Linked DNA regions of Homo sapiens: regions 2 and 3 are each linked to region 1. Evidence: fine-mapped expression QTL. A gene starts in region 1. Each other region holds a variant in brackets. All regions are shown on one strand. Distances are between the middles of the regions.

Region 1 (8,181 bases):
AAATGGGTTCCACTTAATTATTTCTTAAGGAACCTATATTCTTTAGTTTTCAAAGAGATCCAAGGTCAATACTGAATCCCAAGGTCTGACTCTCCAGGCTCCTTCAACAGCTTTCCCGGCATGCAGTTTAAAAACACACCCAGCACAAATTTCGGCTATGGCTTAACTAAAGAACAGAACATGCTAGCCCTATTGTCCACTTCCTCGCTATCAAAAAAACCTTGCAAACTTTTTGGTTCCCCCTTTGTAAGTTCCAATCCAGGTGTTATTTCCTATTTATCCCCCTGCTTTTTATAAGCACTGATTGTTCTCCGATGCTGGCTTTTTATGGACTTAATAGTCTGGAACATGCAATCCAACAGTCTCAATATAACCCTGGACCTCAACTTAGAAAATCAGTTCTTTTCCAAATAGACATCCTACATAGGATAATTTTTTAAAAACATGAACTGGCATTTTGGTACAAGCAATTGGTAAAGTCGGTAACACCAAAATAGTTTTTTGATTAAAAACAAGAAAGTTGACCATGCTGTACGGATTCTCTTACTGACAGCTACTTCCCTACAGGTTTTCGCATCTCCAATTTCTAGCACTGTCAAAGAGAAAAAGATTAGGTGTAACTACAAATTAGCAACTATCAGGAAGAGAGAAAGCCCGCATAAGAGGTAATACCTAGTCACCAACAGTGACCATTCTAGACCAAGGTTGGTTATCCCCGGATGACTCGCTGGACAGGCTGTAAATGGAGTCCTGAGTCTAGTCAGAGTGGTGCTGGTGGCTCCACAGAAAGGAGGAAGAGCCAAGAAAGAAAATGGCTGGATAAACGGAATCTGCAAAGTAAGGTAGGGAATGGGCACTTTTAGGAGCTGAGAAGTGAACTAGGTTAGGCAGTCAAAATGGCTTGATGTAAGTCAAGAATTACAAGCTAAGCTTCCTTATTCAAGAGGAAAACATTGTCTAGAGCCGTACCACCCTGAAAGTGCTCGATCTCCTCAAAAGAAAACATCAACCACCCACACAAATAAATGCCACTGTCAACAAAACCACCAAATCAACCGTGCTGACGTACATACGTCATCAGAGTGTTTCTCCAGACACTATCCCTTTACCACGAAAGAGCAAACGGTGACAAAAGTTTCTGTAGAAACCAAACTCCTGGAGCACTTTTATAATGTCCACTTATCTAAGAACCACCACAATACAGAACTTTAAAGAGAGAAATCAACAATATGTTCTCACTTAAAATGCGCTGGATGTCATGACCCACCCCACTAACGTCCTGGCTAAATGATGAAAGGACGTTCAGCCTTTTCCTTCCTTTTTCATTTTCTCTTTAAGGAAACACTGATAGTTCCTAAAATAAGCACCATTAGGAAGAGAATACTTAAGTTCACTCATTTGACATTCCCACAAAATCAGTACCTGAAAGCAAGCTACCTACCACAAAATAAGCACCATTATGAGAATACATAAGTTCACTCACCGGATATTCCTACAACGTCAGCACCTGCAAGCATGCTACCTACGACTTAAGCAACCCCTAAGTACGGGAAGATGTTTAAAAACCAAAGTTAACTCGAAATTTTATGGATTAGAAAATGTATGTCTACTAGCTACGGTCAGAAAGACACGTGAGAACTATTAAATTATAACAAATGCTCAAGTGTCTGAAGAAATAGACTGAACTACTGATGCACGAACACAGTGAGTTATTCCAAGCAATCTGAATAAGGTCAACGATTTTACAGCAATGAAAATTCTCTAAACGTGTCGCTGACAAAGGATAAAAGTGTAAGCTTCACTTTAAAAAGACACAAATCAATATAGTCTCCTATCACACATTAAGTGAGGAATCCTAACTTTGTGGCACTTTGTAAACTTTAGAAGCGTACACAATGCTAAGGGTAAAACAGATCTTGGTATTGATAGCCAAGTTTCTGCCCGATCACAAGGCTGCAATGCATCTTGGGATTCCTTCAGGACGGTTGGGGGCCACGGACAGTTTAAACCGTAATTACAGTTTCAATAGTAGAAAACGCAGCAGAAGACGCTCTCTCGGCTGGGCCTAAGGTGAAAGGAAAACTCGGCCATTCGTCCTCCCCAACTCCTGGGATCTCTAAACGCCCACCCAAATGACTCCTGGCTCCATCTGTCCTCATTCTGCGCCTCGTGGCAGGGATCCGCCGCGGCCCCCACTCCGTTCCATACGGTTCCCATCTCAAGTGGGTAACTGCGGACTCCAGAGCAGGGCAGGGGCGCGGAGGGGCGGCACTCGGGTCCGGGTCTTTGGGCGCGCTGCCCGCTGTCCGCTCCCCGCCCGGCCACCGCCGCGGGCCGCCCCGCGAAGGCCGGCTCCCGGGCTCGGGGCGCCCCACCCAGGCAGACGGCGCCACTGTCAGCGCCCCACGTGCCGACCGGGCCCCAGGGCCGCGCGCCCCCGGACCGCACCCCTACGCCATGTGGGCTCCGGCGCCCGGCCGGACTTCCTCCCGCGTCCCGGGCCTTTACCCGCACGGCCTCCCGCGCCGCTGCCGGCTCCGTGGTTATTGGCGGCGCCGCCAACTGGGGGTGGCGGCGCTGCCGGGCCCCGCAGGAAGGACGGCACGAACTCGGCGGCGTGGACGTTGGGCACGAAGGGCTTGGCGTTGACGTTGAGTTGCCGGCTGAAGGCCGCGCTGAGGTTCTCCCGCTGGGCCTCGGCCGCCGCCGCCAGGGAGCCGCCGCCGCCGCAAGGGCCCGGCCCGGGGGCTTCCATGTCCGCCTGGTCCCAGCAGTCAGGCGCCGAGTCGCTGCTGCTGCTGCCGCTGCTGCTCCCGCCGCCGCCGCCGCCGCCGCCGCCGCCGCCACTGCCCGGATCCATGATCGGGGGGGCCGTGTGTGTGGTGGACAGAGAGCGGGAAATGGAGGCAGGGGCGCCCGGCCGGAGAGGAGTGGGCAACGCTGACTGAGGGAAGGCGGCGGGGCAGAAGGGCCGGGAGCTAGCGACAAAGATCCCCGGCGTCGCCGCGGCAGCAGCTCCAGTCCCGACTCCACACTCGCGACGACGACAGAGGCGGCGGCGGCGGCAGCTCAACCCTCCTCCTCGTGTGTGTGAGCGGATCTCCTCCCACCCAACCACCTCCGACGGCCTCACAGCCAACCCCACCCCCGGCGCGGATTGACCCCTCGCCGCCACCCGTACCTTCGCCTCGGTAGTTCTCTGTTCTGGCCGCCCCCGTTTCCGGCTATTTAGCGCGGCGGGAGGTGGAACTACAAGTTCCGGCAGCGCCCGCGCTACCCCGCTGCGGTTTTCCCGGGGGCCGACGGGAGTCGAAGTTCAGGGACAGGGCGCAACCGGAAGCGGCTCCGGCTCCCGGCAGGCAACGCGAGGAGGCGGAGGTCTGGTGGCCGCTCGGCGGCCCCACCTGTCACCTGGTGGGGGGGCAGCGGCAGGCCCTGGTTGGTGCAGCTCTGTGCTGGGCCGAAGACCGAGAGTATTTTAGCCCATAGGAGGGGTCCACTCTGGCCTGCTGGACACAGGCTGGGGGAAAACGGACAGCATCTATAACATGGGGAAGAAAAATACACTCAGCTCCCGAAAATTCTTGTACTCTCTTTTCACCACCTTTCCTGCGTTCTCTGCCTCACAGTCTCCGTACCTTATTCTCTCTCCACCTTCTTTCTCCTCACCCCCAGCCAGATTTTGCCCTTCATTTCAAAGCCGGTGCAGATTGCAAAGCTGATTTCATTTTATGTAATCATTTCGTGGAAGAAACAATAAAACCGTGAGATATTCCGGCTTAAAACTGCAGTGTGGCTCATAAAGCGCTGGGGCCCAGGCTCTGCCCAGGCAGAAGGGATTGTTAACTGGAAAATTTCAATGACTCACCGTTTGTTTGACTAGTCATATAAAGCCTTCACCCAAATTTTTCCATCCTTTCCTCCTCCCCGCCAAAGGGTTTGCAAATTAAACAGAGGATTGCCGTATTCCATGGTGTATCCGGCTTACCTAACAGGGTTATTTTGGTGAGTCTAGCTTCCTTATGCACCATTACGTGAAGTGGTTTCCTTTTGAATGGTCTGATTTGCTCAAGAATTCCCATAGTACTTTTCATCGACTGCATCTTACACTTACAGATTAGGTAAACCTGGGAAAAGAACAAAAGCAAACGAGAAATACTTAAGAGTTCGCATTTAGGCCCTTCATGAAGTAGGAAAAAATGTTGCTCTGAGTACCTGTTAAGCTTTCCTGTAATTCACCCATGTGGAGCCCAAGACAGAGAAAAACATATTGTTAGTATTTTTCTGAAAGGAGTCTAGACAGGGTGCAACTAATCTGCCTAGAAATTACAGACTAAAGAAGCACATACATAGAATAGATGTTTCTGAACAACCTTAGGTTGTTAAAAAAAAAAAAAACCTAACAAAATCCAGATCTAGATCTGTATTTTAATTTTCTTTTTTCTTTTTTTTGAGACGGAGTCTTGCTCTGTAGCCCAGGCTGGAGTGCAGTGGCGCGATGTCGGCTCGCTGCAAGCCCGCCTCCCGGGTTCACAACATTCTCCTGCCTCAGTCTCCGGAGTAGCTGGGACTAGAGGCGCCCGCCATCACGCCCGGCTAATTTTTTTTGTATTGTTATTAGAGACGAGGTTTACACCGTGTTAGACAGGATGGTCTGGATCTCCTGACCTCGTGATCCGCTCGTCTCGGCCTCCCAAAGTGCTGGGATTACAGGCGTGAGCCACCGCGCCCGGCCGATCTGTATTTTAATTTTAAACATCTGTATTGTAAAGATAAAAGAGAACTCAGCCTAATGAGATAGGTCAAAAACGAAGCTGTCAAGTATTTTTCAAAAGAGTCCTAGGCTACAGTAATTTGAATTTAATATTAAACTACCAAGCTTTAGGGATTAAAAAAACACATACCGGCCAGGCGCAGTGGCTCACACCTGTAATCTCAGCAATTTGGGAGGCCGAGGCAGATGGATCACGTGAGGTCAGGAGTTCGAGACCAGCCTGGCCAACGTGGTGGAACCCCCGTCTCTACTAAAAATACAAGTTAGGCCGGGCGCGGTGGCTCACGCCTGTAATCCCAGCACTTTGGGAGGCCAAGGTGGGCGGATCACGAGATCAGGAGATTGAGACCATCCTGGCTAACACGGTGAAACCCTGTCTCTACTGAAAATACAAAAAATTAGCCGGGCGTGGTGTGCGGGCGTCTGTATTGCCAGCTACTCAGGAGGCTGAGGCAGGAGAATGGCGTGAAACCAGGAGGCGGAGCCTGCAGTGAGCCGAGATCGCGCCACTGCACTCCAGCTTGAGCGACAAAGCGAGACTCTGTCTCAAAAAACAAACAAAAAAAGCGATCCACCTGCCTCAGCTTCCCAAAGTGCTGGGCTTATCGGTGTGAGCCACCACACCCGGCAGAGTTTGCCTCTGCTTAATAGGAAGTTTTGGTTATAGCCTATTATTATACCTGAAGACCTCACTGAATCATACTTAACAATGTCCATTTTAAAGTTGGTATTAAGTGACTGTCAGATTTACAGAGAACTTAACAACTGTTATGAAAATTAGAACTTCATTTATGCGAGACCTGTATTGCTATTGAATAAAAGATTTTCATCTTATATTCACAAGAAAAAATACAATGTGTTCTAAATGAAATGCCTTCTCTTTCCAGATTTTCACTCCCCACCCACCCACCCCTAAGAAAATGTCAACACAATCAGCTGACTCAAATAATGAACTACACATCCTTCTCTAAGCATTTTGTCTTTGAATACTACTCTCCTCCATGTAGCACTCCTACAGCACTGAATGATCACTTTCTCATAGGTTAGTTCTTCACATCTAATTGAATTAGCAGAGTTTCCTTCTGCCTGGTACTTTTTCTAGGGACAAAGGCAGAAACTGCTCAGACTGCTGCTTAGAAAAGCAGTTGATGTCATTAATTTCCTTGTCTCTGAATAGGATAATTATGGATATTCAGGAAAAAATCCACTCCATTGGTTTTCCAAAGCTTTGACCTGCCAAACAGAGCTCCAGCGGAAAAGGGAAAAGTCTTTCTTGTTAGTTGTGCTAAGTTGTGTGTAAGTTGTGCGACTTGAGGGCAGGGTCTTACCTTAATCTTCTTTACATTTCCACTGCCTAGTGTAATGCCCGGTGTATAAAAGGTGCTTAATCAATTTAGCTGGGATGATACTGTCCTTTGATACTCATTTAAGACTGCTGACACATAGGGCTAATAATTTTATTTATTTATTTATTTTTTAAATAACTTGAGACTCTTGAGACAGAGTCTCGCTCTGTCGCCCAGGCTAGAGTGCAGTGGTATGATCTCAGCTCACTGCAACTTCCACCTCCCAGGTTCAAGCGATTCTCCCACCTCAGCCTCCTGAGTAGCTGGGATTACAGGTGTGCACCACCACGCCCAGCTAATTTTTGTATTTTTAACAGAGACGGGGTTTCACCATGTTGGCCAGGATGGTCTCAATTTCTTGACCTTGTGATCTGCCCTCCTTGGCCTCCCAAACTGTTGGGATTACAGGCGTGAGCCACCACGCCTGGCCTGTATTTTTTTTTAGTAGAGACAGGGTTTCACCTTGTTGGCCAGGCTGGTTTCAAACTCCTGATCTCAAGTGATCTGCCTGCCTTGGGCTCCTAAAGTGCTAGGATTACAGATGTGAGCCACCGCACTTAGCTATTTTAATTTAATTTAATTTTATTTTTTGAGATGGAGTCTTGCTCTGTTGCCCAGGCTGGAGTGCAGTGGAGCAATCTTCACGCACTGCAACCTCTACCTCCCAAGTTCAAGCAATTCTCCTGCCTCAGCCTCCTGAGTAGCTGGGATTATAGGTGCCCGCCACCCCCCCTCCCCAACCCCCTGGTAATTTTTCTATTTTTAGTAGAGACAGGGTTTCACCATATTGCCCAGGCTGATCTGGAACTACTGACCTCAAGTGATCCTCCTGCCTCAGCCTCCCAACGTGCTAGGATTACAGGCATGAGCCACCACACCCCACCCCAGGACTAATAATTTAGAAAACTTAGGAAAAATCAGAGTTTTTCCTACTCTCACACACAAGTCACCGCTCAACACAGAGTACAGTCCTCTCTGGGTAGAGGAAGGGGATTAGTTCCAGGAGCCCTTCAGATACAAAAATCCAACCATACTAAAATCCCACAATCTATACTGTGTGTATGAAAGGTCAGCCCTCCCTACACTTGAGTTCCTGCATCCTGAGAATCCCGTCTTTTTGATCCTCATTTGATTGAAAAAAAAAATCCATGTGTAAGTGGGACCCTCGCAGTTCAGGCTCACATTGTTTAAGGGCCAGTTGTACTCCACCAGTAAGTGAGGGAGTTTCTACCCACCACCAACCAATTCTTCAACAGACACCAACAGGATAAGCAATCATTTCACTCAATTCTGACATTAACCAGAGTTAGGACAGATCCCACAAGTTAAGGGATCAGTCCCACAAGACTGCCCCCACTTCCAATGCCAATAACAGGTTCCACATTGTGACCTGTGCTTCTGACCAACTGGCTATGAATTGGGGGTTCCCATGACCCCCTCCATGGGTTCAGGGAATTTGCCAGAGTGGCTCACAGAACTCAAGGAAACAGGGCAAACACGGTGGCTCATGCCTGTAATCCCAGCACTTTGGGAGGCCGAGGCAGGCGAATCACCTGAGGTCAGGAGTTTGAGACCAGCCTGGCCAACATGGTGAAACCCTGTCTCTACCAAAAAAATACAAAAATTAGCCGGTTGTGGTGGTGGGTGCCTGTATTCCCAGCTACTCAGGAAGCTGAAGGCAGGAGAATCGCTCGAACATGGGAGGCAGAGGTTGTAGTGAGCCAAGTGCTCCACCACACTCTAGCCTGGGCAACAGAGCAAGACTCCGTCTCAAAAAAAAGAACTCAAGGAAACACTTTACTTACAGTTACCCATAAAGGACATTACAAAGGATACAGAGGAACAGCCACGTGGAAGAGATGCACAGGGCTGGGAAGGGGCATACAGTTCCTATTCTGTCTCCAGGTGTGCCATCCTCAAGGGTCCTCCACGTGTTCAGCAACCCAGAAGCTCTCTGAACCCTGTCCTTCTGGGTTTCTATGGAGGCTTCCCTACATAGCCATGACTGATTGTATCATTGCCCGTTGCTGATTAACTCAACCTTCAGCCCCTCTGCCCACC
Region 2 (8,181 bases), 66 kb after region 1:
AACCTGTGTTATTTAAGAGTAAGTTCTCGACCATTCTGGGAGTCCCAGCAAAATGAGGATACCTAGTAGTACCTATCTCCTAGGCTTGTAATGACTAAATAACATTCATCAGTTAAAGTGACTGGTACTGTGAATATCACGAGGTGCATTGTCAGAATCTCAGAGCTGCCTGCTGTTGTTTCTGCAAGAGCTCATGTGGGGTAGGAGTGGGGTTGTTTTTGCCTAGTTATGAGAGGAGGGCTGGGACTAGGCACTGTCTGAAAATCTTTTCCTTTTACTATGACCAAGGAGTCTTTGCCACAAGCTCACAGTTCTGGACCCTTTTCGTTTTACCTTTAGCACAAGAGACAATGAAATTGATAAGCCAATAGAAATTGATCAGTTTATCTTTCAAGGAGAAATAATATGAAAACTCTGGTGGCACGCGCCTGTAATCCCAGCTACTTGGGAGGCTGAGGCAGGAGAATCGCTTAAACCCCGGTGCCAGAGGTTGCAGTGAGCCAAGATCAAGCCACTGCACTCCAGCCTGGGCGACAGAACAAGACTTCGTCTCAAAACAAACAAACAAACAAAAAAACAAAAGAAAGAAAACTTTAAAATTTAATTAAAAAATCATTACGTCTGCTGGGTGTGATGGCTCACACCTGTAATCTCAGCACTTTGGGAGGCAGATGCAGGCTGTCACTTGAGATCAGGAGTTTGAGACCAGCCTGGCCAACATGGTGAAATCCCATCTCTACTAAAAATACAAAAACTAACAGGGCATAGTGGCAGGCGCCTGTAATCGCAGCTACTCGGGAGGCTGAGGGATGAGAATCTCTTGAACCCAGGAGGTGGACATTGCAGTGAGCGGTGATCATGCCACTGCACTCCAGCCTGGGCAACAGAGTGAGACTCAGTCTCCAAAAAAAAAAAAAAAAAAAAAAAATCGTTACATCTAAAGCCAAAGAGAAAAGGAAACCAACAAATGACTTTTTAGGAAAAAGCATTAAGGATGAAAACCTTCTTTTGGAAACATTGTAATTGAGGCAGAAAAAGTGGTCTGTGAAAATGGAAGGGGAAGTCCAACGATATATTTTGTTTCTTGAGAATGCAGTTGAAAGTGGGTTTCCCCACTTGTGGGGTGGGTAACTGGTACACGATAAAATAAAGTGGCATGGAAATATTTCCTCTTTCTTCTGTTCCCCACTTATAATATTTTGTTTATTTATTTATTTTATTTATGTTTTAGAGATGGAGTCACGCTCTGTCACCCAGGCTGGAGTGCAGTGGCAGGATCTTAGCTTACTGCAACCTTCGCCTCCTGGGTTCAAGCAATTCTTCTGCCTCAGGCTCCCAAGTAGCTGGGACTATAGACATGTACCACCATGCCCGGCTGAGTTTTGTATTTTTAGTAGAGATGGAGTTTCGCTGTGTTGGCCAGGCTGGTCTCGAACTCCTGGCTTCATGTGATCCACTTGTGAACTCCTGGCTTCATGTGATCCACTTGTGAACTCCTGGCTTCATATGATCCACCTGCCTCAGCCCCACAAAGTGCTGGGATTACAGGCATGAGCCACTGTGCTCCGGCCATAACATTTTATTTTATAGTGTATTTTAAAAACTCAGAATCTAAGTAAGGTTTAAACAGTGCACATTGGTTTGTGTTTTAAATCTTTTAGGTCTCTCCCTCACCTCCTGTTTATTTTATTTTTATTTTTTGGTATTTTCAGAGCCGTGTAAACATCACCATAGTTAATTTCACAACATTTTAATTACCTTAGAAAGAAACTTTGTACCCATTAGCAGTCATTCATCTTTCCCCCTCCCCTCAGACCCTGGGAACCACTCATCTACTTTCTGTCTCTGGATGTGCCTGTTGTGGGTATTTCATATAAATGAAATCATACAGTATGTGACCTCTCTTATCTGGCTTTTTTCACTCGGTATAATTTTCCTGAGGTTAAACCACATTACAGCATATATCTGTACTTCATTCCTTTTTGTGGCCACATTATATTCCTTTATGTGGATATCATATTTTGTTTATTCATGCATCAAAAATGGGCATTTGAGTTGTTTCTACTTTTTAGCTGTTCTGAATAATAATGCTGCTATGAACGTTCACGCACATGTTTTTGTGGGGGCAAGTCTCTTCATTTCTCTTGGGCATGTTTGTAAGAGTGGAATTGCAGGGTCATATGGTAACTGTTTAACCATTTGAGGAGCTGTGTCAGACTGTTTTCTAAAGTGGCTGCACCATTTTCAGTTCTCACCAGCAGCATATGAGGGTTCTGTTTCTCCACACCTTCCCCAAGAGTCTTTTTAATCATAGACATTCTAGTGAGTGTGAAGTGGTATTTCTTCGTAGTTTTGATTTGCATTTCCCTAGTGACTAGTGATGTTGAGCATCTTATCTTGTGCTTATTGACCAATTGTGTATCCTCCTTGGAGAAATGCCTCTTCAGATCCTTTGGCCATTTTAACATTCGGTGGTCTTTTTATTGCTGATCTATAAGAATCCTCTGTAATTTTTAGATACTAGTCCCTTATCAGGTTTATTGTTTACAAAAATTTTCTCCCCTTCCATGGTTTGTCTTTTCATTTTCATTTTCTTTTTTTTTTTTTGAGTTGGAGTCTTGCTCTATCACCCAGGCTGGAGTGCTGGAGTGCAGTGAGAAATCTCGTCTCACTGCAACCTCTGCCTCCCAGGTTCAAGTGATTCTCCTGCCTCAGCCTCTGGAGTAGCTGGGACTACAGGTGCACACCCCCACACCCAGCTAACTTTTTTGTTGTTTCAGTAGAGATGGGGTTTTGCCATGTTGACTGGGCTGGTCTCGAACTCCTGGCCTCAAGTGGTCCGCCTACCTCAGCCTCCCAAAGTGCTGGGATTACAGGCATGAGCCACCGCACCTGGCCAATTTTTGTATTATTAGTGTTGATGGGGTTTTACCATGCTGGCCAGCTGGTCTCCAGCTCCTGACCTCAATTGATCTGCCTGCCTCAGCCTCCCAAAGTGCTGGGATTACAAGCCTGAGCCACCATGCCTGGGCTCTTTTCACTTTCTTGGTGGTGTTTTTTGAAGCAGTCTTTTTTTAAACTACAGGCTGCCCTTTAATCTCTCTCCTTTTCCCCCTTGCATTTGTTGTTGAAGGAAACAGAGTTATTTATCCCAAGGATCCTTTGCAGGCCTCTGCTGATTGCATCCTTTTGGTGTGGCATAAAGTGTTTTTCAGTCTCTTGTATGTGCTATAAATTGGTAATTAGAGTCTGCTGTATTTTTGAGTTGAAAATATTTGAGTAGAGTCAGAGGAGAGATGGGTGCAAAGCTGAATACATTAAGTACAAATAACCAGGCAGTGGAATGGCGCTAGGTAATATATATATACAAGATAAATGGGTATCATGAGGCCAGAAACAACTAAGATGACCATTAATTGGGGAGTAGGTAAACCTAGTGTGCTGTGGACACCTGACGGAAAGCCTCAGAAATGTTAAAAGGATTGATACGGATTCATACACATCACCGTGGCTGCATCTCAACGTTAATGTTCTGTAAGAAAAGCAGGGTGGGTCTGGCGTGATTGCTCACGCCTGTAATCTGAGCCCTTTGGGAGGCCCAGTTGGGAGGATTGCTTGAGTCCAGGAGTTTGAGACCAGCCTGGGCAACATAACGAGATCTCATCTCAATTAAAAAAAAAAAAAAGCAGGGTGTAGAATTATACCTAAAATATATACCTTGATGCAAATTAAAACATACTGAAGACAATATTTATGGATTCATATATGTATGTAGACCTAAAAAGATTATCAGGAAGAAAGATGCCTGCCAGACATGTGTGGGTGGTTATTGTAGGGTGGTGGTCACAATTTGTTTATTTTTCTTTAAAGAACCCAGTAGATAGGAATACTTGATTGCCCACCTCTTCAGACTATGTAAGGAATGCTGATTTTCAGATATGTGTTTGTTGTTACTGGGAAAGTAGAACTCGTAGAGCCAGAAAGTCATTATACTCAAGTTTTGTCTTTTGTAAGTCTTCATCCTTAAGTTCCTGGATGCTCCTTTCCATCAGTTTTTTTTTTT[T/G]TTTTTTTGTTTTGAGATGGAGTCTTGCTCTGTCACCCAGGCTGGAGTGCAGTGATGCGATCTCGGCTCACTGCCAGCTCTGCCTCCTGGGTTCAGGCCATTCTCCTGCCTCAGCCTCCCGAGTAGCTGGGACTACAGGCGCTTGCAACCACGCCCAGCTAATTTTTTGTATTTTTAGTAGAGATGGGGTTTCACCATGTTAGCCAGGACGGTCTCGATCTCCTGACCTCGTGAACCACCTGCCTCGGCCTCCCAAAGTGCTGGGATCACAGGCGTGAGCCACCGTGCCCGGTCTCCATCAGTAAAGGAGACACTGAGATTCCTGTTTCAAGGGTGAGGAAAGCCAGGCCCATAGTGATCAAACAATTTGTGTAACAGATGAGCTCTAAGATTCATCATATATCAGAGTTTTGGGCTTAATGGGTAATTTACTGCTGTTTCTTGCCTGACGTTAATGTATATTTTGGCAGCTTTTTATTAAAAAAAATTTTTTTTAATTAACGAATATTTTTTTGAGACAGATTCTCACTGTGTTGTCCAGGCTGGAGTGCAGTGCCACTATCTTGGCTCACTGCAACCTCTGCCTCCTGGGCTCCAGTGATTCTCTTGCCTCAGCCTCCTGAGTAGCTGGGATTACGGGCGTGCACCACCACGCCTGGCTAATTTTTTGTATTTTTAGCAGAGATGGGTTTTGCCATGTTGTGCAGGCTGATCTCAAAATTCTGAGCTCAGGTGATCCACCTGCCTTGGCCTCCCAAAGTGCTAGGATTACAGGTGTGAGCCACTGCGCCTGGGTTACAATTTTTTTTTTTTTTTTTTTTTTGTAGAGATTGGGTCTTACTACGTTACCCAGGTTTATCTGGTACTCCTGGCCTTAAGCCATCCTGTCTCAACCTTCCAAAGTGCTGAGATTATAGTTGTGAGCCACTGTGCCCAGCTGCTTTTTCTTAGTTTTCTGGAATGTTGAAGGTCACAGTTTTCTCCTCGGCACTGACTGGGCCCTCTCTGACAGTAGCTTGTACTTAGAATAAATAATCAGCTGAAATGAATGAATGAATGAAAAAAGAATATTTGTGGTTTTCATTCAAAGTAGAAAAGTGATGCTATCAACATTTTTTCCCCCTTGTGAAGGCACTGGATTGATCTATGATGGTGGAATGCAAGAAGTACATGTTCTACCATCAGCAAACAGTTGACCCCCACCTCTGCTAGCAACTGGCGATGGACTAGGTCCTACTGATGTTGGCTATCTTGCCTCCTGGTTGCTTGACTCCAGGTAACTGATAGGAACTCAAATGCTTAGAGCTCTTAAAATTTGGAACTAAAATCCAAGATTTTATAGATTTCTCCAAATTGTGGCAATGTGAGCATATTTCCAGATAAAGCACCTTCCATCTGCCACTGTCTTGTCTATACATAGGCCGTATATTTGCAGTGGGGGTGATATCACCCCCAAGGGGGTGAACACTGGTTCTCAGGAGAGAAAAAAAACTTACTTGGATGTATAAAGCACAGATAGGCATATAGTACATAAACAGATGTACATTGTATCTGTGGTATTACTTTTTCATGGAGGGGATGATTAGCAAAAAAGTGTCTAAAAAGTGTCCTTAGGGGGAAAGAATGAAAAAGATTGAGCTGGACACAGTGGCTCACACCTGTAATTCCAGCACTTTAGGAGGCTAAGGTGGGAGGATCGCTTGAGCCCAGGAGTTTGAGACCAGCCTGGGCAACATAGTGGGACCCGTCTGCCGGTCTTTGTACACACACACACAAATTAGCTGGATGTAGTGGTGCATGCCCATGGTCCTAGCCACTCGAGAGGCTGGGCTGACGTGGGAGGATCACTTGAGCCTGGGAGGTTGAGGCTACAGTGAGCCATGAAAGTACCATTGCACTCCAGCCTGGGTGACAGAGCCAGACCCCTCAGACCCTGTCTCAAAAAAAAAAAAAGAAAAGATTGAGACTGATATAGGCTGCAGTAATTGTATTATTATCATACAACTTTGCATCTTGCTTTCACCATTAACATTTCAGGACAAAACTTTACCACATTGCTCCATGGGCTCACTATTGATCACTTTTATGGAATGTACAGTCCATCATTCATCATTTTGCATGTAGTACAACTTTTAACTATTGATTCTAGTTGTAGAAACTTAGCCTATCTTCCTCTCTCCCTCTCCTCCCTCTCTCCCTCTCTCTCTCCCTTCCTCCCTTTCCTCTCTTTTTCTTTTGAGACAGGGTTTTGCTCTGTTGCCCAGGCTGGAATGCAGTGGTGATACAATTATAGCTCACTGCAGCCTTGATCTCCTGGGCTCAAATGACCCTCCCACCTCAGCCTCCTGAGTAGCTAGGACTAAAGGTGCGCCACCACACCCGTCTAACTTTTTCATTTGGTGTAGAGACAGGGTCTCAGTATATTGCCCGAGCTGGTCTTGAACTCCAGACCTCAAGTGATCCTCCTGCTTCAGCCTCCCAAAGTGCCAGGATTACAGGTGTGAACCACTGTACCTGGCTTTCCTTCTTTCTTTTTTGTTTCTGTTATAAGTAATGATGCAGTGAACATTTTTTTTTCAAGGTAGTTTTCCATCCCTTAGATTATGTCTGTAGGGAGATTTTCCAAAAGTAGCATTAACATCGAAGAGTTTATCACTTTTGATTCCTTTTTTTTTTGGCCTATAATTAAACTCAGTTGAATTGATTTGATTTTTTCCAAAGTGGTTGCACTAGTTTCAATGCTGCTAGTAAGAATAAGGGCTCTGGTGGAAGCAGAGGTTGGCCAGAAATTTGGGGTTCAACATTCAGCAAACATTGGATGATAGTTTGGTGCATCCTCTATCACTTATCAAAAGGTTGTTACCACTGGGGTCTGTTGAAGCAAAAGGATGTTGTTGGGACCGTGCTGAGTGTGTTAGCCAGGGCTCTTTTCAGTGGAATGTGGCAGAAGCTGATGAAACTGATTTCAACAGCATGGGAATATATGGTGTCTTGTAATGGAAAAGTCTAGACATAGGGCTGGCTTCAAGCTTAGCTGGATCCACGTGTTAAAGGACTATCAGGATTATCTTTCTGTCTGGCTGTCAACTCGTCTTTTCTCTCTGTTGGCTTCACCCACAGGCAGCCGCTCCTCCATGGAGCGGGCTGGCCATGTGGTCATCCTGCAACCCATCACTGTGATTTTGGTTGGCCAGGTCTGGACCATAAGTCTAGTCTGGAGCCTGTGGCTGGGAGTCCATCCTACTAAATTGTCTGGATGGAGGATGAACTTCAGGGGAAGGGCTGCTGTAATTTTGGATGGGGTGGTTAGGAATGTGATGTGGCAGCAGAGGCTTCCTGAGGCAGGTGGCTCCTAGGTTTTCTTCCTGAGCAGCTGAAAGGGGTTGGAATTGCCTTATCTTTTTTTTTTTTTTTTTGAGATAGAGTCTTGCTCTGTCACCCAGGCTGGACTGTAGTGGCGTGATCTTGGCTCACTGCAACCTCTGTCTCCCATGTTCAAGTGATTCTCCCGCCTCGAGCGCCACCATGCCTGGCTCATTATTGTATTTTTCGTAGAGATGGGGTTTCACCATGTTGGCTAGACTGGTCTCGAACTCCTGACCTCAGGTGATTCACTGACCTCGGGCTCCCAGCGTGCTGGGATGACAGGTGTGAGACACTGTACCTGACCAGAATTGCCTTTTCCTGAGGTGGGAGAGCCAGTAGGGGAGCAGGTTAGGTGGGGGCTGAGCAGTTTGAATCCTGCAAGGGGAGTGAGGACTCTTTTCCTTGCCCTGACTTTTTGCTGTCCGGGAGCCCTTCAGAGACCTGGCACTAGTGTTTCCTCTGCTCACCCAGGCAGTACCCCGCTTCCTCCGAGGAGGGAAACTTGCCCACTCCATCTCATTTTTCTTCGCTTGCATCTGTGTTTCTTGGAATCTGCTCTTTCCTCCTACAACTTAAAAAAAAAAAAAAAAAGCGAAAACCCAAAATGACATTAAAAACTATTGTGAAAACAGAATATACCTTTAAATATACATTCCTGGCACATTTAATATTTAAATTTGTAGGTATTCCTCTTCTGCCTTTGTTCAAAGCATACACTATATATGCATTTTGCATAATTGCATTGTATCTCC
Region 3 (8,181 bases), 50 kb after region 1:
CAAGAATTATCAGTGGCTGGGCGCGGTGGCTCACACCTGTAATCTCAGCACTTTGGGAGGCCAAGGCAGGTGGATCACGAGGTCAGGAGACTGAGACCATTCTGCCCAATATGGTGAAATCCTGTCTGTACTAAAAATACAAATATTTGCTGGGCATGATGGCGCATGCCTGTAATCCCAGCTATTCCGGAAGCTGAGGCAGGAGAATCACTTGAACCCGGGAGGCAGAGGTTGCAGATCGCACTACTGTACCCCAGCCTGGCAACAGAGGGAGACTCCATCTCAAAACAAACAAACAAACAAACAAACAAATAAATAAAAAATCATCCAGGCTAGGTGGCTCATGCCTGTAATCCCAGCAGTTTGAGAGGCCAAGGCCGGTGGGTCACCTGAGGTCAGGAGTTCGAAACCAGCCTGACCAACACGGTGAAACCCCGTCTCTACCAAAAATACAAAAACTAGCCAGGCGTGGTGGCATGCACCTGTCATCCCAGCTACTCAGGAGGCTGAGGCCAGAGAATCGCTTGAACCTGGGAGGTGGAGGTTGCAGTGAGCCGAGATCGCGCCATTGCACTCCAGCCTGGGCAATAACAGTGAAACTCCAGCTCAAAAAAAAAAAAAAAAAGAATAAGTTTTTAAAGGTTGGGGTGCTTGGAGGATGAAATAAAGTAGAAGGGATGGCAGGTTTCCTTGGCACACTCCTTGGGCCTTAAGAAAGTGTAAAGAATAAGAAAAATACAACAAAAGGAAAACAACAAATATCAATGTATCCACCACTCAGCTTAATAAAGAAAATATAATAAACACAGGTGAAGCCTTTTTTGTGCTCCCCTTCTTCCCCACCACTTACCTCAGAGATAATCACTATACTGAATTAGGAGTTTGCCATTTCCTCAAATTTTAATTGAGTCCTGCATTTTTGACAAACATCTGGACGTCTCTATATGGGTATTTCACTCAGTATGGTTAAAAGCAAATTCAAGCTGGGCTTAGTGGCTCACACCTGTAATCCCAGCGCTTTGGGAGGCCGAGGTGGGTGGATCACTTGACCCCAAGTGTTTGAGAGCAACCTGGGCAACACGGCAAAAACCCATCTCTACAAAAAATACAAAACTTACCAGGCGTGCTGGCGCATGTCTGTAGTCCCAGCTACTTGGAAGGCTGAGGTGGGCAGATCACCTGAACCCAGGAGGTGGAGGCTGCAGTGAGCTGTGATTGTGTCACTGCACTCAGCCTGGGAGACAGAGTGAGACTCTGTCAAAAAAAAAAAAAAAGGCAAATTCAAGTGATCCATTTATGTAAACAGAAAAATGCACTATATAAATGTATCTATCTAGAATTCAGGGATCGGTGAAACAAAAGACATCGCATCGGCAGGTCTGTTTGCAACTTCTGGGATACACCAGGTGTTAGCGGTGATGACTTCTGGATGCTTGGACTGTGGATTTTTAAAATGGTTTTATCTGCTCATCTGTATTTCTAAATTTTCAACAATGGAACATAGATTATTGTATTATTATTATAATACCCCAAACCTATCTTCCTCTCAGCCCTCTTTCCACGAGCTCTTACCCTAAATGTCTCTTTTTCTGTCAGTGGCATTGTGCGTCTTCCTTAGTGCATCACCTCTGATCTTCCTGTAGAATTTTTTTTTTTTTTGAGATAGAGTCTTGCTTTGTCACCCAGGCTGGAGCGCAGTGGCCTGATCTTGGCTTACTGCAAACTCCGCCTCCTGGGTTCAAGCACGTCTCCCTGCCTCAGCCTCCTGAGTAGCTGGGATCATAGGTGCCTGCCACCATGCCTGACTAATTTTTGTATTTTTAGTAGAGACGGGGTTTCACCATGTTGGCCAGGCTGTTCTGGAACTCCTGACCTCAAGTGATCCACCTGCCTCGGCCTCCCAAAGTGCTGGGATTACAGGAGAGCGCCACGGCGCCCAGCTTACACCAGACTACTTTTTAAAATGTTTTTGTAAAGTCAGGGTTTCGCCATGTTGCCCAGGCTGATTTTGAACTCCTGGGCTCAAGCAATCCTTTTGCCTTTTGACTCCCAAAGTCCTGGGATTACAGGTGTGAACCCCTGCAGCTGGCCTCAATGTTAAGATCTTAAGGGGCACAGCACAGACCTTGTCTTGTCTATCTCCCTGGCACCTCTCACAGAGTACAGCTTATTAACAGATGTTCCAGAAACTGTTACTGAACATTCGGCTTGATGCTGTGGGCTTGTCTGCATCTTGCAACTGTCACCTGGCTGAGAAATTTCTTCTATAAATAAGCAGTTTCTGTTTCAGATGTGATATGCCCTGATATTTACACCCTGTCTCTTACCCCATCCAAGACTCAAACTTAGAAACTTGAATTAGATGTGGTATTCAAATCCTTAGCTGCCGCGAAGACACAGACAGCCCCCGTAAGAACCCACGAAGCAGGCGAAGTTCATTGTTCTCAACATTCTAGCTGCTCTTGCTGCATTTGCTCTGGAATTCTTGTAGAGATATTACTTGTCCTTCCAGGCTGTTCTTTCTGTAGCTCCCTTGTTTTCTTTTTGTGATCATGTTGCAGATGGCTGGGCAGTGCTCCCAAAATGAATATTTTGACAGTTTGTTGCATGCTTGCATACCTTGTCAACTTCGATGTTCTTCTAATACTCCTCCTCTAACATGTCAGCGTTATTGTAATGCAAGTAAGTAATATTGCTTGAACGATTATTCATTGGTGTGAACTATTCTGTCTATATGGACTGCTTATTCAGAGAATCAACATAATGGGCATGATGGTGAGTTTTCTTGAATCAAAAAGAGAAAGGAAGCAAGGCAGTGATTTTAATGTTTATGGAAACAAAGTAATTATTTGGAACTGAACTTGATATGATTCAGCACTATTAGCAACATAGATTTTTTTTAAAAATCAGCTCTTCTAATTAAGTGATATTTAGAATTTAAAAGTCAATGTTCATTAATTAAGGTGATTGAATGGAAATAATCCATACTTGATTATTTTGCTATCAAAACAATCCATAATTCATTATTTTAGCAAAATAATCAAGTATGACAGCCGGGTGCGGTGGATGGCTCACACCTGTAATCCCAGCACTTTGGGAGGCCGAGGTGGGTGAATCACCTGAGGTCGGCAGTTTGAGGCCAGCCTGGCCAACCTGGTGAAACCCTGTCTCTACTAAAAATACAAAAAATTAGCTGGGCATGGTGGCACAGGTCTGTAATCCCAGCTACTCGGGAGGCTGAGGCAGGAGAATTGTTTGAACTTGGGAGGTGGAGGTTGCAGTGAGCCGAGATCGCGCCACTGCACTCTAGCCTGGGCAACAGAGCAAGACTTTGTCTCAAAATAAATAAATAAATAATAACAATAAAGTATGTGAATATTATGTTATCAGCTCATTATCTGTCTGATGTTCTTTTCATAAAGGTGTGACCAATTCAGTGAAAGGAACGAATGCGATTCTCTGGACCTGTTTGGGACTGAGCTTAATAATTTCTTTGGCAGTTTTCGTGCTAATGTTTTTGCTAAGGAAGATAAACTCTGAACCATTAAAGGACGAGTTTAAAAACACAGGTTGGTTTGATGGTGAATCTTTGAAATCTATTTCCAGGGGATGGCTATTGTGAGTTTCAGTTCCTTTTCTTTTTTTAGCGTTGACTATTTCACTTCGTTACA[G/A]CCCTTTCGAATGTGTTAGAACATTGTTACATTAAATGAACTTGGTAGAGGTGAGCCATCTTCATTCTGATTTTGACACCTTGGCAGATTTTCTACAATGTCAGTCTTCTCCAGGATTCTTCCACTGTTAATTACTCTATTGAAAGTACTAAGGCTTTCTTGGGAAACATCAGTCTCTTTGACTAAAGTTAGCACATCGATTAAATGCCACATTATCAGAAACTCCTAGCCAGGTCTGCTACTGTCAGGAAAAGCATATTTGTCAAGATCTATGGTCATGTTTTTATACAAATATAGGTGTTCTTTGCTTGAGTGAACATTTTACTACTGAAAAATGTTAGAAATGAATAACCAGTTGCTCCTGAATTATTTGAGGAATCATCTAAAAAATAATTATTTTTAAGCAATAGAGAACCAGTCCCAGAAAAATGAATGTTCTACTTAAGTGCCTCTTAAGATAAAAATACTTCTGCAGCACCTTTGCTCATGATTGGATTCCCAAGCATGTACAGCCACTGCCCTATTTCTGTATGCATTTATTTATTTATTTATTTATTTATTTATTTATTTATTTAGAGATGGAGTCTCGCTCTGTGGCCCAGGCTGGAGTGCAGTGGCGTGATCTCAACTCACTGCAGCCTCTGCCTCTTGGGTTCAAACAATTCTCCCATCTCAGCCTCCTGAGTAACTGGGACTATAGGTATGTGCCATCACCTCCGACTAATTTTTGTACTTTTTGGTAGAGACAGGGTTTCATCATGTTGGCCAGGATGGTCTCAAGCTCCTGACCACAAGTGATCTGCCCGCCTCAGCTTCCCAAAGTGCTGGGATTACAGGCGTGAGCCACAGGGCCCAGCACATACTCATTCTTTTTTACTGAAAAGATCTGTTTCAAGCTGGGTGTGGTGGCATGGAGCTGTAGTCCCGACTGCTCTGTAGGCTAACGTGGGAGGATTGCTTGAGCCCAGGAGTTTGAATGCAGCCTGGGCAACACAGTAAGACCCCACCTCTAAAAAATGAAAAAATCTCTCTCACATTGCTTTGAGTCCCGATGTGTACTGCTAAGACTCTCATGACCACATTCTCTGTGAAGTTTGGGTTAATGTTTCCGTTTCTACATAATTAGGATCAGGTCTCCTGGGCATGGCTAACATTGACCTGGAAAAGAGCAGGACTGGTGATGAAATTATTCTTCCGAGAGGCCTCGAGTACACGGTGGAAGAATGCACCTGTGAAGACTGCATCAAGAGCAAACCGAAGGTCGACTCTGACCATTGCTTTCCACTCCCAGCTATGGAGGAAGGCGCAACCATTCTTGTCACCACGAAAACGAATGACTATTGCAAGAGCCTGCCAGCTGCTTTGAGTGCTACGGAGATAGAGAAATCAATTTCTGCTAGGTAATTAACCATTTCGACTCGAGCAGTGCCACTTTAAAAATCTTTTGTCAGAATAGATGATGTGTCAGATCTCTTTAGGATGACTGTATTTTTCAGTTGCCGATACAGCTTTTTGTCCTCTAACTGTGGAAACTCTTTATGTTAGATATATTTCTCTAGGTTACTGTTGGGAGCTTAATGGTAGAAACTTCCTTGGTTTCATGATTAAACTCTTTTTTTTCCTGACATCTAAGTTTTTATTAACGTGAGTTTTTAAAAACAAGCATGTATACCAGTGTGGGGGGTGAGGGTGGGAGAGAAAGGTGGGAGGGGGAAAGAATTCTAACCTATTGATAATAAAGCTCCAGTTTTGGCCAGGCGCGGTGGCTCATGCCTGTAATCCCAGCACTTTGAAAGGCCGAGGCGGGCAGATTACCTGAGGTCAGGAATTTGAGACCAGCCTGGCCAACATGGTGAAACCCTGTCTTTACTAAAAATACAAAAATTAGCTGGGCATGGTGGTAGGCACCTGTAATCCCAGCTACTCAGGAGGCTGAGGCAGGAGAATCGCTTGAACCTGGGAGGTGGAGGTTGCAATGAGCTGAGATAGCATCCCTGCACTCCAGCCTGGGCAAGAGGGTGAGACTCCGTCTCAAAACAAAACAACACAAACAAACAAAAAGACCTCCAGCTTCATCTTCTGCTGGATTTTATAGTGCCCCAAAGATATGTGGTCCTTAAAAATTGTATACCACTTATTCAGGAGTCTTGTTCCTGAAAGGGTTGTTCTTGTTACAGCCCTAGTCTGGGCTGTAATCAGCTTCTTAAGGTCCACAATGGTGTTATCTGTGTAGCATTTAACACAGACCTTCTCCACACTATCCACTCTCCACTGAGGTTGTTGCAAACAACCTCAATCATCCTAGCTGATGCTCATCACCTTGAACATGCTGACATGACAATCTTCTCACTAGAGACCTCTAAACGCTTGACTTACTGAAAAAAACAGCATTCTGTAGATCTCAGTAACCAATTTCTTTTTCTTTTCTTTTTTTTTTTTTTGAAACGGAGTCCTGCTCTGTTGCCCAGGCTGGAGTGCAGTGGCATGATCACAGCTCACTACAACCTCCACCTCTCAGGTTCAAGCGATTCTCTTGCCTCAGCCTCCCGAGTAGCTGGGATTACAGGCACGTGGCACCATGCCCTGCTGATTTTTGTATTTTTAGTAGAGATGGGGTTTCACTGTGTTGGTCAGGCTGGTCTTGAACTCCTGACCTCAGGTGATTCACCTGCCTTGGCCTCCCAAAGTGTTGGGATTACCGGTGTGAGCTATCGCGCCCGGCCCCAGTCATACGCTTCTATGGTTAGGGCGCTTCTCTCCGATATACATACATACAGATTTCAGGAAGGATCGGATGTTTCTCTTGATTTTTGAATTTTATTTATTTATTTTTTGAGACAGTCTCGCTCTGTCGTTGACACGGGAGTGCAGTGGTGCGATCTCAGCTCACTGCAACCTCTGCCTCCCGGGTTCAAGCAATTCTCTGCCTCAGCCACCCGAGTAGCTGGGATTACAGGTGCCCGCCACTGCGCCTGGCTAATTTTTGTATTTTTAGTAGAGACAGGGTTTCACCATCTTCGCCAGACTGGTCTTGAACTCCTGACCTCGTGATCCACCTGTCTTGGCCTCCCAATGTGCTGGGATTACAGGCGTGAGCCACTGTGCCTGGCCTTTTCTCTTTATTGTTAAAGGAAAGCTAACTTATGTACTTCTGCAAACAGGAGAAGCCTAGAATCAACCAGACGAATTCAGTGTGCAGTGCACAGGTGGTTCTTGGCCTTGTGAGCTTCCAGCTTAATGAAAGCATCAGGCATTACTATAATTACACAAGTAAATGTGTAATCGCAAACTGTGATAACGGTGCACGACATACTGTTTTCAGCCCAAAATGTGAGTGGTGCTATAATAATCATATCTAACCCTTATATAGTCTTACTAACGTGCCAGGGACTGTTCTAAGTGCTTCACCTGTACTAGCTCATTTTATTTTTTTGAGACGGGGTCTTGCTCTGTTGCCCAGGCTGGACTGCACTGGCATCATCTTGGCTCACTGCAACCTCTACCTCAAGAGGTAGGTTCAAGAGTCTCCTACCTCAGCCTCCCAAGTAGCTGGGATTACAGGTGCCCGCCACCACACCCGGCCTATACTAACTCATTTTAAGCACACAAAAACTCCTGGGTATGGCCGGGTGTGGTGGCTCATGCCTGTAATCCCAGCACTTTGGGAGGCCGAGACAGGCAGATCACCTGAGGTCAGGAGTTAGAGACCAGCCTGACCAACATGGTGAAAACCTGTCTTGTCCCACATTTCCAGTCTTTATTTTTATTCATTTATTTATTTATTTTTGAGATGAAGTCTCACTCTGTCGCCCAGGCTGGAATGCAGTTGTGCTATCTGAGCTCACTACAACCTCTGCTTCCTGGGTTCAAACAATTCCCCTGTCTCAGCCTCCTGAGTAGCTGGGACTACAGTCGCATGCCACCATGCTCAGCTAGTTTTGGTATTTTTACTACAGATGGGGTTTCACCATATTGGTCAGGCTGGTCTCGGACTCCTGACCTCAGGTGATCCACCCACTTTGGCCTGCCAAAGTGCTAGAATTATAGGTGTGGGCCACTGCACCTGGCCTTCCAGTGTTTAAAATCAGCATTTTTTTTTTCTTTCTTTTGAGACACAGTTTCACTCTTGTTGCCCAGGTTAGAGTGCAGTGGTACGATCTTGGCTCACTGCAACCTCCAACTTCTGGTTTCAAGCGATTCTCCTGCCTCAGCCTCCCGTGTAACTGGGATTACAGGCACCTGCCACCACGCCTGGCTAATTTTTGTATTTTTAATATAGACGGGGTTTCACCTTGTTGGACACGGTGGTCTTGAACTCCTGACCTCGTGATCTACCTGCCTTGGCCTCCCAAAGTGCTGGCATTACAGGCATGAGCCACCGCGCCTGGCCTAAAATCAGCATTTTCTTACTCGTTTCTTTTTTTTTTTTGAGATAGGGTCTTACTCCAATGCCCAGGCTGAGTGCAGTGGCATAATCTTGGCTCACTGCAGCCTCGACCTCTGGGGCTCA

Evidence for each region.
Region 2: its variant is fine-mapped to the expression of GSPT1 in whole blood (TOPMed, PIP above 0.99).
Region 3: its variant is fine-mapped to the expression of GSPT1 in whole blood (TOPMed, PIP above 0.99).

The regions. Positions count from the first base shown.
Region 1 is chr16:11,912,861-11,921,041 of GRCh38, forward strand. It overlaps GSPT1 (G1 to S phase transition 1), which reads right to left and starts at 3,096. Exons shown (of 15, transcript NM_002094.4): 1 at 2,509-3,096. The coding sequence starts at 2,860. RefSeq lists silencers at 2,226-2,275, 2,316-2,555, 2,646-2,715, 3,426-3,485 and enhancers at 2,540-3,477, 3,086-3,235, 4,536-5,036.
Region 2 is chr16:11,978,372-11,986,552 of GRCh38, forward strand. The region is part of intron 1 of SNX29 (sorting nexin 29); the gene reads left to right. Among named protein-coding and RNA genes, the nearest start is that of SNX29, 5.7 kb to the left of the region's middle. The variant T/G (reference allele first, on the strand shown) is at 4,064.
Region 3 is chr16:11,962,773-11,970,953 of GRCh38, forward strand. TNFRSF17 (TNF receptor superfamily member 17) reads left to right here and starts at 2,438. Exons shown (of 3, transcript NM_001192.3): 1 at 2,438-2,682; 2 at 3,423-3,569; 3 at 4,798-5,296. The coding sequence starts at 2,553. The coding sequence ends at 5,075. It also overlaps a transcript of NPIPB2 not described here and the pseudogene UBL5P4. RefSeq lists a silencer at 305-474 and enhancers at 1,986-2,105, 2,226-2,665. The variant G/A (reference allele first, on the strand shown) is at 3,672.